Linked DNA regions of Homo sapiens: region 1 is linked to region 2. Evidence: fine-mapped expression QTL. Tissue or cell type: pancreas. Region 2 holds a variant in brackets; the other region holds the start of a gene. All regions are shown on one strand. Distances are between the middles of the regions.

What was found. PIP is the estimated chance that this variant, and not a neighbour inherited with it, causes the effect.
Region 1: it holds the start of GABRP, and the variant in region 2 is fine-mapped to the expression of GABRP in pancreas (GTEx, PIP above 0.99).

What each region holds. Positions count from the first base shown.
Region 1 is chr5:170,779,771-170,787,877 of GRCh38, reverse strand. It overlaps GABRP (gamma-aminobutyric acid type A receptor subunit pi), which reads right to left and starts at 4,153. Exons shown (of 10, transcript NM_014211.3): 1 at 4,004-4,153. LOC107986475 (a long non-coding RNA gene) reads left to right here and starts at 4,822. Exons shown (of 2, transcript XR_001742978.3): 1 at 4,822-8,107.
Region 2 is chr5:170,748,404-170,756,510 of GRCh38, reverse strand. All of the region lies in intron 1 of LOC107986473 (a long non-coding RNA gene), which reads left to right. It overlaps LOC107986474 (a long non-coding RNA gene), which reads left to right and starts at 4,105. Exons shown (of 2, transcript XR_001742977.2): 1 at 4,105-4,388; 2 at 4,754-5,112. RefSeq lists enhancers at 3,530-4,414, 4,415-5,299, 6,683-7,440. The variant G/C (reference allele first, on the strand shown) is at 4,167.

The DNA.
Region 1 (8,107 bases), 31 kb before region 2:
CAGACATTCTTTTATTTATCCCCAGGTCTAGGCTTGTGGGGTCAGTCATGTAGACAGGAAACAAAAACCTGAGAGCCTCCAGTGTCAGGAGGTCATGAGTTAGGTGCTGTCCCACAGAGCTCACTCCATCCTCACAGTGGCCTTGTGTGGTGGGCGGGTTAATCCCTATATTATTACGACAAGGAAACAGGTGCATGGGAAGGACACCATGCTAGTGAGTGCCAGGGGAGACTTTGAATCCAGGGCTGGCTGCCTCCCCCCCGGTACTCTCTTCCTTCAGAGCAGGCTGGGGCCTGGGCCTTAGTTGACCCGAGGATCCTTGCTGCTGTCGTGACCTCCTAGACCTTGTCCCTGTGTTTCCTGAAGCCTTCCAGCTGGTGTGTATGTGAGGACCATCCGTGGGGCATGGCCCAGGGGCCCGGCCTCCTCAGCTTCAGGAGCTGCTGTCAGGCGTCCCTCTGAGGGAGCAGGGGGTAGCCAGGCAGGCCAGCCTGTGACCTGTCATGCTGGTGACAGCAGAATGGGGGTGCTCAGGCTCAGGCCCCATTCTCAGGCAGCCCTGGGTTGATTACCTTCTCTGTGGCAACTTCTGTGAAACAAGCCACTTTCTAGAATCTGGCCATTCTGGAGCTTAGGGCATGATTCAGCCACTCATTAATGTTATTTTACTTTCAAAACCAATACTCGCTCACTGTTGAAATGGCAACAAGTCAGAAGTTAAAAGTATAAGTCCCAATGATGTGTCAATATGGATTCATCAATGAAAACAAATGTGTCCCTCTGATGCGGGATGTTGACAGTAAAGAAGGTTTTATGTGTAGGGAAGGCTCAATTTTGCTATGACCCAAAATTGCTCTAAAAAAGAAGTCTATTTAAAAAAACATAACAAAAACAAAAAAGTCCCCCCCCATTTCTTCTCTTTTGTCTCATACTTCAGAAATAACTACCGATAACAGTTGTTTTATCCACAGATACACATATATATTTACATACATATATATCTCTATATCAAAAAAATTAAAAAGCAAAATTGGGGCAATAGCATGCTTTTTGCGGCTTACTTTTTTAACTTAATTATAGCAAACATTTATTGAACACTTAATGCATGCTTACAACTGTGCCACGCATATCTAGAATCCTCACAACTCTTTGAAGTAGGGACTACCATTCTCCCCATTTTACAGGTGAGAATACTGAGGATTAGAGAGGATAAGGAATATTTCCAAGGCTAAGTAGTACATGAGGGGCAGAAAAGTACATCTAAGCAAGCTGACCCAACTCCTCTTAATGAGTGCACCATGAAACATGCTGTTTTGCAGTATCAGTGACACCTTCCATGTCAGTTCCTATAATCCGCCTTATTCTCTCTAATGGCTGCAAGGTGTCTCATGGTCTGAATGTACCAACATTTCTAGAACACATCTTCTACTGTGAATGCTGTTATTTCCAAAGTTTTTACGTTACAAAATCAGTGAAGAACAGTTTTGCACACAGGTAAATTCTTATCATTCTGCTCTCTGTTATGTTAGCTTTTTTGTTCTCACTCATTGAAAATACCAGTTATAAAATCAACATTATAAATCTACCAACGATCATATTCACATTCTCTTCCTTTAGTCCATCTCCCCAATCCCTGTCCTTTCCCTGTCCAAGCATTGAGTTTAAGGGGGTCCATGGAGCAGCTCCCATGCCCTCCATTGCCTCATTCAATTTTCCACAGGTTTATTGAGCTTCTCCTGTGAACCAGGCATGTGAAAAGCACCACCAGAGCACCCACCCATCTAGTGAGGAAGAGACATGTGTGACTGGTGAATGAACATTCCCTACAGCATCCTCTAATAGGAGCAGAGGACAGGGGATATTTGGTATGCAAAAGAGCAGGGAGGATGGGGCAATGTCAAAAGGGAAGTCACAGAAAAGGTCATTTGATTCTTGAAGAGTGAGTTGCATTTGCCAGGTGGACAAAGGAGAGTGGGGGCCCTCCAAATGTTGGACAGAGATGTGCAGGCTTGCCCACGGCCTCTCTCCCACATGCTTATCAGCCTCTTCCCACCAGCCCTTGGCTGTCTGTGTCTTTCTCCTGGTCTGGCCTGAAGGAACATGGTTCCACTTTGGCATATTCCTCATTTCCTCCTCCTCCTATAGGAAATGGCCCTCGATCAAGTGATTTGGGGAACCATCCAGTCTTCAGTTCCAAGACTCCTCTTGAATAGTGCTTTCCCAGTGGCCAAACTTCTGTTAGGAAGATGTAACATTTGGCCCTGGGCCTCTCAGCCTCCTCTAAGGAGTCTCATGATCTGAGAAGCTTCACCCAGGCTAGAGCCAGAAATGTAATCCCATCCTACCGTGTTTGCTTGGTTAAGTTGCTAAACACGTCTCATTTTATAAGGGAAGAAAAGAGAAGAAAAAGGCTTCTAAATGCCCATGAATTGTTAGAAGCCATGTCTGGTGCTTAATTTCATTTAATTCTCATGGCTGCTGGCCCAGAAGGTGTTAATTTTTAGAGTCAAATCTTAGATTTGCAAGGGGATTTGGCTGAGGTCACACAGTTAAGTGGCATGATTTAAATCTGTTTTCCAAGTCCCTTTTCTTTGCCCTGCATTTAGGAGGAGGGCCTTCAGCACCCCCAAGCTGAACTGGATTCCACTTGAATCTTGTCCTTTTTATACCAAACCCATCTGGGGGATGGAGTGTTGCATCCGCAGCACATCCCAAGTGACAAGTGCAGCTGATGCCATCACTCCCTGTGGTAGACGAGCCAATCGTTAAGTGGCTATTTATGTGTCGGCCAGCCTCAATGGAGGCTCAGGCCACCAGTTCTGGTACAGGTGCTGGGGGATGGAATTTAGTGGAGAGGTACTGAGCCACCAGAGAGCAGTGTCCTAAGGGTTGTCCCCAAAGCTGCAACACAGATGTTGACTGGAACCACCTAGCCTTCTGCATCTGCAGGGACATGGTGCTCAGGAGGCCCTAGGAGGCTCCTGAGTAGGGGCAGCCTATGCATTATCCTGCCCCGAGGGCATCTCTGGCCAAGCTCCTACCTCCACTTGTAGAGGAGACCTTGAGCTCTGGATCCTGATACACCCGAGTCATTTAACCTCTCAGAGTCTCAGTTTTCCCATCTGACAAATGGGAATAGAAAGCATTCAATAAACATTAGTTTTCATTCTCCTCTGCCTTCCGTGTCTTCCATGGGAATTCAGTGATTCCACTATGACTAATAGAACCCAAATCTCAAGCTCTTTCTATTTCTATATACACCCCAGGTGCCACTCAGAGTGTGAGCTAACTGGCACCACCTCAGGAAGTACAGGGTCAGGCACAGGGCATTAAGGTCACATAGGGAGCTGATGGCACCTTTTTCTAAACCAGAAATCCAGCCTAATGTCTCCCAGTCTCCCCCGCCTCTTCCTGGCTTGGCCTACTGGGCTTCTATACTCCGTGCTCTTGGCCTCTATGTCTCTTTTGAAAACTTCCCAGGCTGGAAGCAGAAATAATTCCAATATGTGCAAGTTTCTACTACCGTTTCTACTCTATTCCCAGAATTTCTACCATGTAAATACAGTGACCCCCAACCCCAACTTGTCACCTCCAGCTTCCTTCCTATGCAGGCACAGTTTTCCTATCCTTATCACTTCAGCATAGACAGAATCATTTGTTGGAAAGCAGGAGTAGAGCCCGAATTAGGTTAAGGTGAGGAAAGGCATTATTGCCATGGGTCCCGCTTAAGAAAATCCCAGAAGATAAAGTGGTGCGGCGCGTGCCCTGTGTCTGCTGGTCTTGGCCAGCTGCTGCACAGGGGTGAATGACTGTGGCTGTAGTGAGGACAGCAGGGGCTCTAATCTTGGCTCTGCTGCTCGTCCTGCAGTGGCGCTCCCTGATGCTCATTAGGTGTTCAGCAGAGTCCAGGCCTGCCCCCTCCCTCGGTCCCAGCAGGGCTTGTATTTGGATCTCCCTCCCTCCCCTCTCTCCAGACACCTGGAGGGGCCAGCAGTTTCCTTACCAGGTAGTTGTTGAGGCTCTGTTAGGGCAAGTCCTTCAGGCCTACAGGCAGGACTTCCAGGCAAGGCACGGTCTTCTGGGTCCCCAGGGTTCTCCTCATCCTCAGCCCTGTCCCCTCGTATGTGGACACGCAGCCACCCTCAGATGGAGTGGCTCTCTGGGGAAGAATGGAGCTGCTAAACCTGCTGTGCAGAAACAGAGGTGGGCGGAGCCTCTCAAAGCCCCATCCTTGGTGGGGACACTGACTTGTCCTGAGTGTCTGGAGATCGTCTGGTCCTGAGTTTCTGGAGATCGTCAGCTCCTGCTATAGCTACTGCCTCCAGGGGTTTGATTCTGAGATCATGTCTCAGTCATGCTCCCAGACCTCTGCCAGAAAAGACCCCTGAGATCAAGGACCCATGAGAGTCAGATAAAGTGGGTGACCCCCACCCACTATGCCGGGCTCTGAATTTGGTGGACAGCCCTCCACCCTGGTGCAATGGAATGGCTATAGTGGCCACTTCACCTCCTTAGGCCTCAGCTTCCCATCTATAAAATGAGAAGCTGACTGTGTGTAAAACTCCGATTTCTTGTTGTGTATTTTAAGAGCATCTTTGGGATCAACAGAAGGCCTATTCTATGTTAAAAGAGACTTTCATATCCCAGGACCTAGTGCTTTCCAGCCTGGGAAGTTTCAAAAAGACTCATAGAGGCCAAGAGCACAGAGGATAGAGGCCCAGGAGGAGGAGGCGGGGAGACACAGAGACACTGGGCTGGATTTCTCCAACCCTCCACCTTCCCCCATCCTGCTCTCACACAGAGGATTCTTTAACTTCCCACAGAGTCCTTTCAGGAGCATCCCAGAGAGGGAGGCCTTCTTCCTCCCTGGCCAACCAAACCTCCTAACAGAAGTGCTTCGACAGTGCTCACTGAGCTCTGGGTCATCCCCTCATCATAGCCAGTGGCCCCAAACTCACTCTTGGCTCCAGCCATGCAGGTAAGGGGAGGGATTCCTTGGAGGCTTGGCCTTGCACCCTGAGGGAGCTGGGAGCCAGGAGGGACTCAGATGGAGGGGCAGAGAGAGAGCTGAGGCTGTGGTACGAGGCCCAGAGGCATCTCCTTCCCTCCTGACATCATGGCGAAGCTCCTGCCTAGACCCAGTCTAGGAGCCGGGAAGGGAGAGAGAGAAAGGAAGGGGAGCAAATGGAGGGGCAGGAAGGGGAGGGCCACAGTGTACAATGAACCATAGATGCCTTTGGCCCCAAGCCAACTTCCTTAGTGAGCTTCTGGAGCCTGGCCAGCCTGGAAAACATTGCTCCGCTGGTGGGTAAGGAGTGGGCACCTAAAGAGACAGCGCTTTCATTTCTCCTGAGAGGACTCACTTTCACTTGGGAACCTTGCTGGTGGCTAGAGCAGGAATGGCTGAGGAGCCGGTTTCAGGTTCTCAATGAATAGACAGTGATCTGGGGCTTTTCTCAAAAAGCCTAAGATATTCTCACACAGAACAAAGGCTCCAGAGTAATAAAGACAATTCAGAGCTGGGAGGTGGGGGTGGGAGGGTTTCCTCTGACCCAGGAACAGTGAGACTTAGATGAAGGAACATGGGCTGGCTAGCTGCATGGTCCTGGACAAGTTGCTTAACCTCTTTGGGTCTCCATTTCTTATCTGACCAATGGGGCTGATGCTTCCTTACAGGATTGCTGTAAGGAGTCAGCAATGACAGATGTGGTAACACATCTGAAAGCACCTGGCACCTTGACCTGGCACATTGTAGACGCTCAACAAATTGTTCTTTTTCTCCTGATGGTGTAGTGTCTTGTCAAGTTTGTGCTTATCTATCCAAACCTCCATCCAGATATCTATCTATTATCTATCTTCATCACCATTATCTGTCAATCTGTCTATCCTGTGTTTAATCTTCCCAATCATATTGTTAGTATTTTCATTGCAAGGGGCTTGAATTGTACTTCTATGTAGACATCCAGTAAATATGTTAAGAGACTGATTACCCCTGGTGGCCAGGGAAAGCCAGATCTTAAGTGAAAGTAGGTATGATAAGGCGTCTTATCTCCCACTTTCAAACAATGCTTCATTCTAGTGTTGGCTTCTTCTTAGATTTTCTTCAGATCAAGTGAAGAAATGCCTGGGAGGGGAATTTCCAGGAAAACTAGGTTCTTCTCCAGTATTCCCAGGCATTCTTGCTCCGTGGATCCAGAAACCCCAGCAACCTCTGCACCACACCTCATTTCCAAGTGTGACCTCTGGTCTCAGGAGGCCTAAGGTCAGTGTTAGGACGTTCAGGATGTTCAGATGTACTGCCCACAGGATACTGATCTCAGTGTCCACCTCTTACTCCACATGGTCATACTCTCTCCTAAGTGTCCCGGAAAAACAAAGGCAAGAGGACATAGATATGTCTTGCCTTGTACCTCAATCATAATGCATGCAGGATACTAAGTCATAATAACACCGTACATTTGTATAGTGCTTTGCAGTTTTCAGAGCCTTTGGCTGTGCATATGCTTTATCTTTGAGCCATATAATAATCCTGTGAAGCAGGCAGGGCTTTTTAAAAAATTGTTATTTTACAGATGAGGAAGCTGTGCTAGTCAGCCAGCTATTAAGGGGTGGAGTCGGCATGGACTGGAATCCAGGTCTTTGAATTTCAAATCAGCCGCTTACCCAAGTCCATTCAATAATGGTGGGGAGTACAGTGAAACAGAGTTCAACTAAAGCAGAGGACAGAGAAAACCTGTGGGTCTTCCCCTTGCCTGGGACACTGTAGTGGGAAAAGATTACTTTTTGCACCTGTGCTTCCCAGGAAATACTGCCTGTCAGAACTGAATACCCTTCTCACCTGCAATCCCAGCTGGAACGTCTAGGACAATCTCAACCCTCTCATCTTCCTTCTTCCCCCACCCTCAACACCTGATGGACCCTCACTCTTGATACCTTGTTCTGTCTTATCTCCCAACGCCTGGCTCAGCAACTCCTCATCTTAGAAATGGGCATCTCCAAAAAGAGGCCTGAATGGCTCTGTGCAAGATGAGCCTTTGAATTATAGGAGAAAATATTAGAACTTCTATGGCTTCAAACAATGGGAGAGATATTGTACTTTACTAATATTTACTATGTGCATGGATACTGGCTGCTCACCAGTGTGATAGGAAGACTGTCCAAGGTCATGTATAGCTGGGCCAAGCCACGTGAACCTGAGGATGGAGTGGGGGCTTTACAACATGGAGGGCTTGGTCTTGCAATCCTTTGCTTTGGGACCAGGTTAAATGGATTGATGATTTGTTTTCACCAAATTAACCCTAAATTGATGTGTGGCTTAAAAAAAGATTATTGCAAAAATGAACTACTGAAAGGAGATAACACTAGTAATGGAAACAGCAAGAAAATGGTAGCACTGACACTTCACTCATCGTCACCTAATTAAACATCTTCCAAATGAAGAGTTTTCAAACTCTTGTTAAAAATATAAAAGTGCCAATGGCAAATGTGGAAGAACAATTGATCGACATCAGAGAAGATGACATTTCCTAACTGAATTTAGACACAATTTGCATAATTGGTAAGATAGAAAAATTATTATTATAGCAAGCACAGCCAATGTAGTTAGTGCCTTTTCCATTTGGATTTCTGCACTTTAGTGAAGTATCATTTTTTTCAATTCTGAAAGTGATTAGAACTAAATATCAAAATAATTTGAACTTAAAACTAGTCTTCTAAATATCATAATGCAGAAGCTTAATATGAAAATAATACAAACATGATAAAACATAACAACCTCAGTACAAATATTAGTTTTCATAAAAATTTGTTCCAGTGAAAAGGGTTTTCCTGGGTATGGTTAACAAAATAAAAGCTTAAAAAGTAGTGTTATGTCATCTTTCATCTTTATCTCACCCATTTAAATGCTTTTTTTTTTGTATATCTTATCACACATACCATATATTAGGACATAAGACAGTCTCTAAATAAATTAATGTACACAGGTTGAGGACATAGGATCAAAGTGTGGAGACAGTTGGGCCAGGCTATTGAGGAAGTTCCTGACTGTTTTTTCAACTTCCAAATATATTCCCCTCTTGACAATCACCAGGCCGATCTTCGTAAAAAC
Region 2 (8,107 bases):
TTTTTCTTTTATTCTTCTTCCTTCCCCCACTTCTTGTTCTTTTTCCTCTTCTTGTTGCTGTTCTTGTCCTTCTTGTGATCTAATTCTTAGAATACATTTGTCAAGTGGAGTTAATTGTGGTTTGTATAAGAGCCTCTTGTGACTTGGGTTGTATGAGCTGGTTCTCTCTAAGGCTGGATAACTCTCAGAGCACTGGCAAAATCAAGTCCCTGGGCTTGGCATGCTGGAGGGCAGGTCCTGGAACACAGCAGCCACACCTAGGCCTTCTGCCTGGCCTGGCAACAGCTCTGTACTCTCTTGAACTTAGTCAAGAGAACACATGATATGCAGTTTTGTGTTTTATAACCAATCCTGTTTCGTTCCACTTTATGTGAACTTATCGAATTACACAAATCTCTTCTGGAGTGAAAGGAGGTATAAACAAGCAAACAAATACATCAGTGAATACTAGGCATCCACTGGTGGATCATACCCAGTTAAATATACCCAGTGTCCCTATTGCTGATGAATCCGGGACCCCAGCACCACAGATTCGGCACTTCAATTTGCCTGCTGGACATTCCGTTCTCTCAGCCATCTGAAAAATGGGCCCCAGAGCCTTTACATTAAATAGCTATTCACTGCCAGGCTTTTCTTGGCAAGATGCCAATTGGCCAAACTTCCTGTGTGGCTGTGGAAAAGGGGAGTAGCTGTTTTGCAATTGCAAGTGCATATAGAGCAGGTATACCTTTGTAATCACCTTATACATCGTATATGATCTGTGAGGAAGCTGTGCACAAAGGCGGGGGTTCTTACCACAGGGAAGACTGGCTGGCACATCCAATGCCATCACTGCACCGTTCTGGAGATTGTGTTTGCCATGTGGATGCCGAACCAAAAGGAATGTCTGTGGCGATATCTCCAGTTTCCCTCCTTTTGGTTGTATTTTTAGGTCTTATTGCCCAGGAGGCTGACTTTAATAATGTAAGAAGGAGGCGATGAATTTAAGGCTTATTCATCCATTCATGAAATAAATATTAACCAAGTACCTGCTATGTGCCCAGCACTATGACCCCTTTTAGCCTAACAGGAGCAAATGTGAGAAGCAAACATCTTGTTTAGCTGGTTCAGGGGTGACCAACATGTGGTTTGGTAGCCTGGACTGATATCTTGTTAGGTATATTAGAACTGCACATCACCATGAGGTCCTGAAGTTGGGAGTGGAGCCGATGCTAGGACAAAGCTGGGAGGGCAGGACAGGAGAGATGTCCAGACCTAGGCAAGGATCCAGGATGCTCCCCAACATCCAAATCCAAGGCCCCATGCAGAGTACTTGACTCTTATTATCTACATCACATGGTTTGAGCCAGGAAAATAGCTGGCAAGGTAAGTGGTTAAAATACTGGGTATGGTGTCAGGAGCTAGAAAAGCTGTAAGAATGAGAGGGGAAGTGTCAGATAAAACTGCCAGGATGACACAAGAGAAACATCTCTCCATCCATCCATCCATCCATCCATCTATCCATCCATCCATCCATTCATCCATTCACCCACCCATCCATCCACCCATCCATCCATCCATCGATCCATCCATCATTCCATCTACCCACTCATCCATCCACCTATCCACCTGTCTGTCCATCCATCCATCCATCCACCCACCCACCCACCCACCCACTCATCTTTCCATCCATCCACCCATTCATCTATCCATCCACTCATCCATGCATCCACCCATCCATCCATTCATCCATCCAACAATCCATCCATCCATCCATCCACCAATCCATCCATTCATCTATCCATCCATCCATCCATCCATCCATCCTTCCATCCGCCCATCCATCCATCCATCCATCCATCCACTCATGCATCCATCCATCCATCCATCCATCCATCCATCCATCCATTCACCCACCCGTCCATCCATCCATCCATCCACCCACCCACCCACTCACCCATCCACTTATCCATCCACCCATCCACCCATCCACCCACCCATCCACTCACCCATCCACCTATCCATCCACCCATCCATCCATCCACCCATCCACCCACCCATCCATCCACCCACCCATTCCTCCATGTATCCATCCATCCATCCATCCATCCATCCATCCATCCATCCATCCATCCACTCATGCATCCATCCATCCATCCATTCACCCACCCGTCCATCCATCCATCCATCCACCCACCCACCCACTCACCCATCCACCTATCCATCCACCCATCCATCCATCCACCCATCCACCCACCCATCCATCCACCCACCCATTCCTCCATGTATCCATCCATCCATCCATCCATCCATCCATCCATCCATCCATCCGTCCACTCATCCATCCATCCATCCATCCATCCATCCATCCATTCATCCATTCACCCACCCATCCATCCACCCATCCATCCATCCAGCCAGCCAGCAAATATTTATCAGTATCCATTCTGTGAAATACAAAGATAAATAAAAACATACTGGTTACCCTTAAGGAGCTTAAAGCATAGTAGGGAAGAAAGGCAATTAATAATGATTATAAATACTAGTTGAGCCTTGCTATGTTCAATGCATTTTTTGTTCCAGTTCCCCAAACCCTTATTCCCATGGGGTGGCACAAAGAGGGCCAGGTGTCATCTGTACCTGCTGTGGGTTGCGTTATGGGAGAGGAGCCCTAAGCCTAGGGAACCCAGATATTTCATAATGGAGAGTAAGCCTACCTGCTCTTTACATTGAAGGGAGACACTATATCTTCTGAGGCTATTTGCTTTGCAAACATTCTTGAAAAGATTGTAACCAAAGCAGTGTCTCTGCTCAGAAGACGTGCAGAAACACAAAAGACTCTTGGAAAAATGCTTCCCAACAATGAGAGGCTTTATTTTTTAGGATGACAGTGTTTTGGAAACAGTGAGAAACAGATACTGAGAGAAGTCCCTAGCCTGGGTACCCAGAGAGCCTTTTACCTTCCTCTGGTAGGACTCAATCCTGGTGTTGGTTACCCTAGACCAGGCCAGTGAAACAGGTAAGTCCAGAAGAGGGAACAGGGGTGGCAGCATTGGATACTCTCTCTCCTACTGGTGAATCAAATGCTTTACTTTATGAAAAACATGGATTCATCCTATTAGCATGTTGGAGCAAGTATCTAAATAGAAAAATAGTCCACCCTGGGGAGGCATGTGGGGTAGAGCAGGGTATATTGTCTACATTTCAATGTGATGATCTCAGGGAAGCAAGGACATTAAAATCTGTTGAGGATCTATAATGTACCCGGTGGTGCAATCATTTCTACAAACTTCATTTCATTTAATCTCATAGGAACTTTTTTTTGTTGTGGCAAAATACACATAACATAAAATTTACCATTGAAATCATATTAAAGTGTACAATTCAGTGGCATTAAGTCCATTCATGAGGTTGTGCAACCATCACCATGATCTTGTGTGAGAACATTTTCATCACCCCAAACCAGAAACCCTGTACCCATGAAGCAGGTACTCCACATTCCTCCTGCCCCAGCCCTGGAAACCATTCATCTGTTTCTGTCTCTGTGGCTTTGTCTGTTCTGAATAGTCACCATCATCTTTGATAGAGATCCTGTTATTCCCAGTTTACAGATGAGGAAGCTGCAGCTCGGAGGAGCTCACCTCCTGTCCAAGCTTGCAGAGGTGGCAGGGGGTGGATGTGATGGGTCTGTATGAGCTCCCTAGGTGGACGAGGAAGGTCAGTCAGTCTTGTTGCCCTCACGTCACCTTCAGGAGCACACCCACTGTTACTGTGTTCAGGGAAGAGGAGAGGAAGTAGGACTCCTACCCACCGGGCATGAATCAGAGGGAGGCAGGAAGGAGAGGGGCTCCAGGTGGAGAGAGGGTCCAGGCTGTGGGTAGCAGAGGCTGGTCAGCAGCAGGGTCAGGCCCCACGGTGGTGAGAGGCTCTCTCTTGCTAGAGTGGTGCCTGGGGCAGGGCAGCACTGCTGCAGCGGGAGCTTCTAGTGCAGCGGGCTTTGGCCCACATGCCCCCATTTAACAGCTTTGTTTACTTGGGTGGGTCCCCCAAGCAGACGCTCTGGGAAGGCAGCCAGTTCAGGTTTCTTTTTCTTCAGGGAAACCAGACCTGTCTTTGGCTGAAAGTCTCTCTGGTGTGCTGCCAACACCTCCAGGCTGTCTGGGGGGCTGAGTGCCTGAGTGAGAGTT[G/C]ATGAATGGCCTCAGGTCAGAGACATCTGCCAACGAGTGAGCTGAGGGAGCCTTTTGTTCATTTCCTGGGAACCTGCGGGAAGTTGGGGCAGGGCGCTGCCCACCCAGTGCAGGCTGGGCCCTCAACATTCCCTTCTCCATGAGCCTCACAGGGTCACTTTCTGGGCCTTTACTCAAGCTGCTGGAACTCAGGGAGCCCCTTTACTTGCTTGGGGGTGCATGGTAGGTGTTTGGGGGTGTTCCTTCACAGATTCTTAAAACTCAAGAGGCTCACAGTCTCTCCTCTGTGGAATGTGGGCCTCCTCCTACCCTCAATCTACCTGGGAAGCAGAGTGGGGAGGAAAATGTGGGCCCGTCCCGGGTGTCCTAACTCATCCTCTGTAGAGGGACCCTCCTCCTTGAGTATCTCTCTCACCCAGGGTGTGGCATCCCTTGGTCCCGAGGGTCCTCAGAGGGTTAAAGCGTTGAACAAAAAGAGCCCTTCCAGATGGGCTGTGCCGTAGCAGCTGTCGTGAAGGGCCCCGCCAGCCCCCGTGGGCCTCTGGACACAATCATGACTGTATCTGGCTGTGTCTGACTCCAATCAGATGAGCTTCGACGTGAGGCATGTGGCTTCCTTCCGGCAATGAACTGTCTGGGGTGAATGTGACCCCCACAGATGTCTGTCTGCCTGCCTCCCTCTCACCTGGCATCTCTGGAAGGAATTTCTAATAGCAGCCTGACCCCATGGGTGAGTGTGCTCCTGGGGGTCAGGACGGTGATCTTACAGAACCTAATGAGGGGGCAGGTGGGCACGGGAAACAGCTGGATGCCTGCAAAGATGATCCTGGGATGAGTACCCTATTCTCACTTGGCATAGCAGGCACAGAGGCAGAGCAGCCCTGGTTCACCCAACCCTGCCACAGGCAGCCATGTAAACTTGAATAAATAAATCCCTTTGCCTCAATGAGCCCTTTCTCATCTGTAAAAGGGGATAATATGTTGCTGAGTTGCCGTGGGTCTTAAATGAGAGAATGCATGTGAAATACCTGGAAAATACATAAGAAATATAAGTAGTTATTCCAGAATAACTAATAATAATACTAAATAATATTGACCTTTCCATCCGACACCAGCTTATTCTGAAAGAATAAACAGGTTTACTCAGGGCGCAGTACCTCTGGGCGAGTCCTGAGCCTGTCCCAGCCTTTCCTGGGCCGTTTCTCTGATGTGTCCCCTGGTCTGGCCTCTGTTTGACTCAGCAGGGGACACTGCACTCTGTGTTTCTGACTCCCAGACCTCTCTCTGGGAAGAAGCCCCTCAAGCGTACAGCTCTATCACTAAAGGCTGCAAGCTGCGTTTCCGATTTCTGAGCGAGCACAGCTGGCATCTGCTCTCCTTCTTGAGCCTGTTGGACTCCTCACCCTCTCTACTTAGCTACTTTTGCTTACAATGCTTGAGCATGGACATCTAATCCTTACTGTCTTGTGGCTCAGGAGGCAGAGTAGTAGCATGGTGCTACTAGTGTGCTTTGGACCTAGATGGATGGTTTGGGTTCAAGTGCTGGCTCCATCATCAGCTCACTCCACTGGTGACATGGGGCAAGTGTCTTCACCTCTCTGCCTTAATTTCACCCTTTCTGAGTTGTGGACATGATCATCTTTCCTATCTACTTCAGGGCTATGGGGAAGATGAGATGAGCTATAGACACACAGGACTCAGAACAGAGCAGGGAAGAGGGGAAGAGATTCATGGCTTTTAATTGTTAGCAAGACCTTAAATCCTATGGGTCTGCCTAGAAACCATCTGGGCTCTGGGCAAAGCCTGGGAGAGGGGGTAGACAGCTGTTCTAGTTCCTAGATATGAGAGCTAGAGCTAGGGTGACGGTAGGAGGGAGGAAGAAAATGAACATTTCTCGATGCCTGTTGGGTGTCAGCCTCCTAGGTGTTTGCCCTGTGTTTATTCCCTTCCCTTGGTGAGAACCCTCAAAGGATGGGGCAAAGGATGTGTTTTGACTCTACGGCCAAGGAGGAAGCCGGATAAGGCAGCTGAGACACCTTGCCCAGTCTCAGTTAGCACATCATGAGTCAGGGTTCAATACCAGGTGTGTCTAAAAAGCCCATTCTTCCCTCATTACCATTCACCTCTCCCTATTGGCTGAAACTGTCAGTTCTGAAACAGAAGGGGGACTGTTATTCCAGACCTATTCACTGTCTCCTTGTTTGGACATATTTTAAGAGCCGCCCTAAGCGATTATGTGACAACTTATAAAAACTAAATACAAGTTCCTCATCGCAAACGTTCCAAACTGCCCTGGCAGCTTTCAGGTCAACTTATTAACCTGCTGAGGGTGGTTCTGCCAGCAATCTGTCCCTCTGTTGACCTGGGGACTTGATTGCACATGTCTGTCATTTATGGCCACAACAAAGTTAGAAAGACTCGTGGCTGGCTCTATGACATTTGTCATTTAACATTAACTTGAGTTTTCATTAAAAAGTGTTCCTTTCACCAGAAAAAAAATGAAGACCGCTCTCCTTCATATTAAAAGCCATCTCGAACCTTCTTATGTTTTCTGGGACTTAGACATCTTCAAAAACAATGAATACTGCCATTTTCATGAATAGCAGTTCCCCAGGCTTGGGTAGACAAAAGCCTCCAGTAACTGAGGCTGTAGAAATGGAAGCTTGGAAGACAGGGAGCTGGCCCATGTGGTAAGTGGGAGATACTTCGGCTATGGAAATCCCAGGAGACGTGCAGCATGGGGCAGTCCAGGAAGGCAGCCCAAGTCAGCTCATCCCCGAGACATGAAGAGAGGAGTTAGGCGGCTGACACCGCAGTTATCAAGAGCAAGCTGCTCCTGTGAGTGGGGAATGAAATCTGGGGGGCAGAGGGATTCAGAGGAAGGTGGAGACTCAGACCCCTCCCTGGGGAGCTCTCTGGAGTAGGGCTGATGTCAGAGAATGGCACTGGAAAGAAAGCCTCTGTGTTTGGTTCCACCGGGTCAGGGGCGCTTCTTCTGGAGGAAGGCAGAGGAAGGCGAAAGCAACCTCTTATTGAAATGCGGAAACCTCCCCACGTGCTCATCAATTACCAGGCCAAAGTAGGTGGAAATAGCTCCCCTCGCCTTCCCTCTGCAAACCGTCATTCCCACCCTTCCTTCCTGGTCTGTGGACTGTCATCTCCAGACAAAAGAAGACGCAGCTAAGCGCAGCCCCTTCACACACCCAGGACACAACAGAGTGGGTGGCAAAAAAAGACGTGGCTCGGGGAGGGAGGGAGGAGAGGCAGCTGGCTGCCTCTGAGGCCACAGACAGAGGCCAGTGCTCCGTCCTCATCCTAGAATGCTGCAGCTGGGAAGGACCCCAGGGCCTAGTTGCACTCATCTGCCGGGGAACCAAGATCCAGAGGAGGAGATGTGAGCATACAGCCTAACGTAGGCTGAGCTGCACAATTTGTTCATTCAGCAGTGGAGCCAGTGTCTCTTGGAGCAAAGGTGGGAGCTAACCCTTGAGCAAATTTTCTTGGATCTTCTGCAGATATTTGCTTCTGAGGGAGGCAATTTTGGTGGCCTGGCTGAAATTGGCTTACAGTGCAAGAGAAATACCTCCTTTGGCTAAAACTACTTTTCTTTTCTTTCTTTTTTCATTTTTTTTTTTTGAGACAGAGTATCGCTCTGTCTCCCAGTCTGGAGTGCAATGGCACAATCTTGGCTCACTGCAACCTCCACCTCCAGGTATAAGTAATTCTCATGTGAAACACCCCTGAGTAGCTGGGATTATAGGTGCCTGCCACCACATCCAGCTAATTTTTGTATTTTTAGTAGAGACGGAGTTTCACCATGTTGGCCAGGCTGGTCTTGAACTCCTGGCCTCGAGGGATCCACTGGCCTTGGCCTCCCAAAGTGCTGAGATTACAGGCATGAGCCACCACGCCCGGCCTGAAACTACTTTCCTTTAGGTATA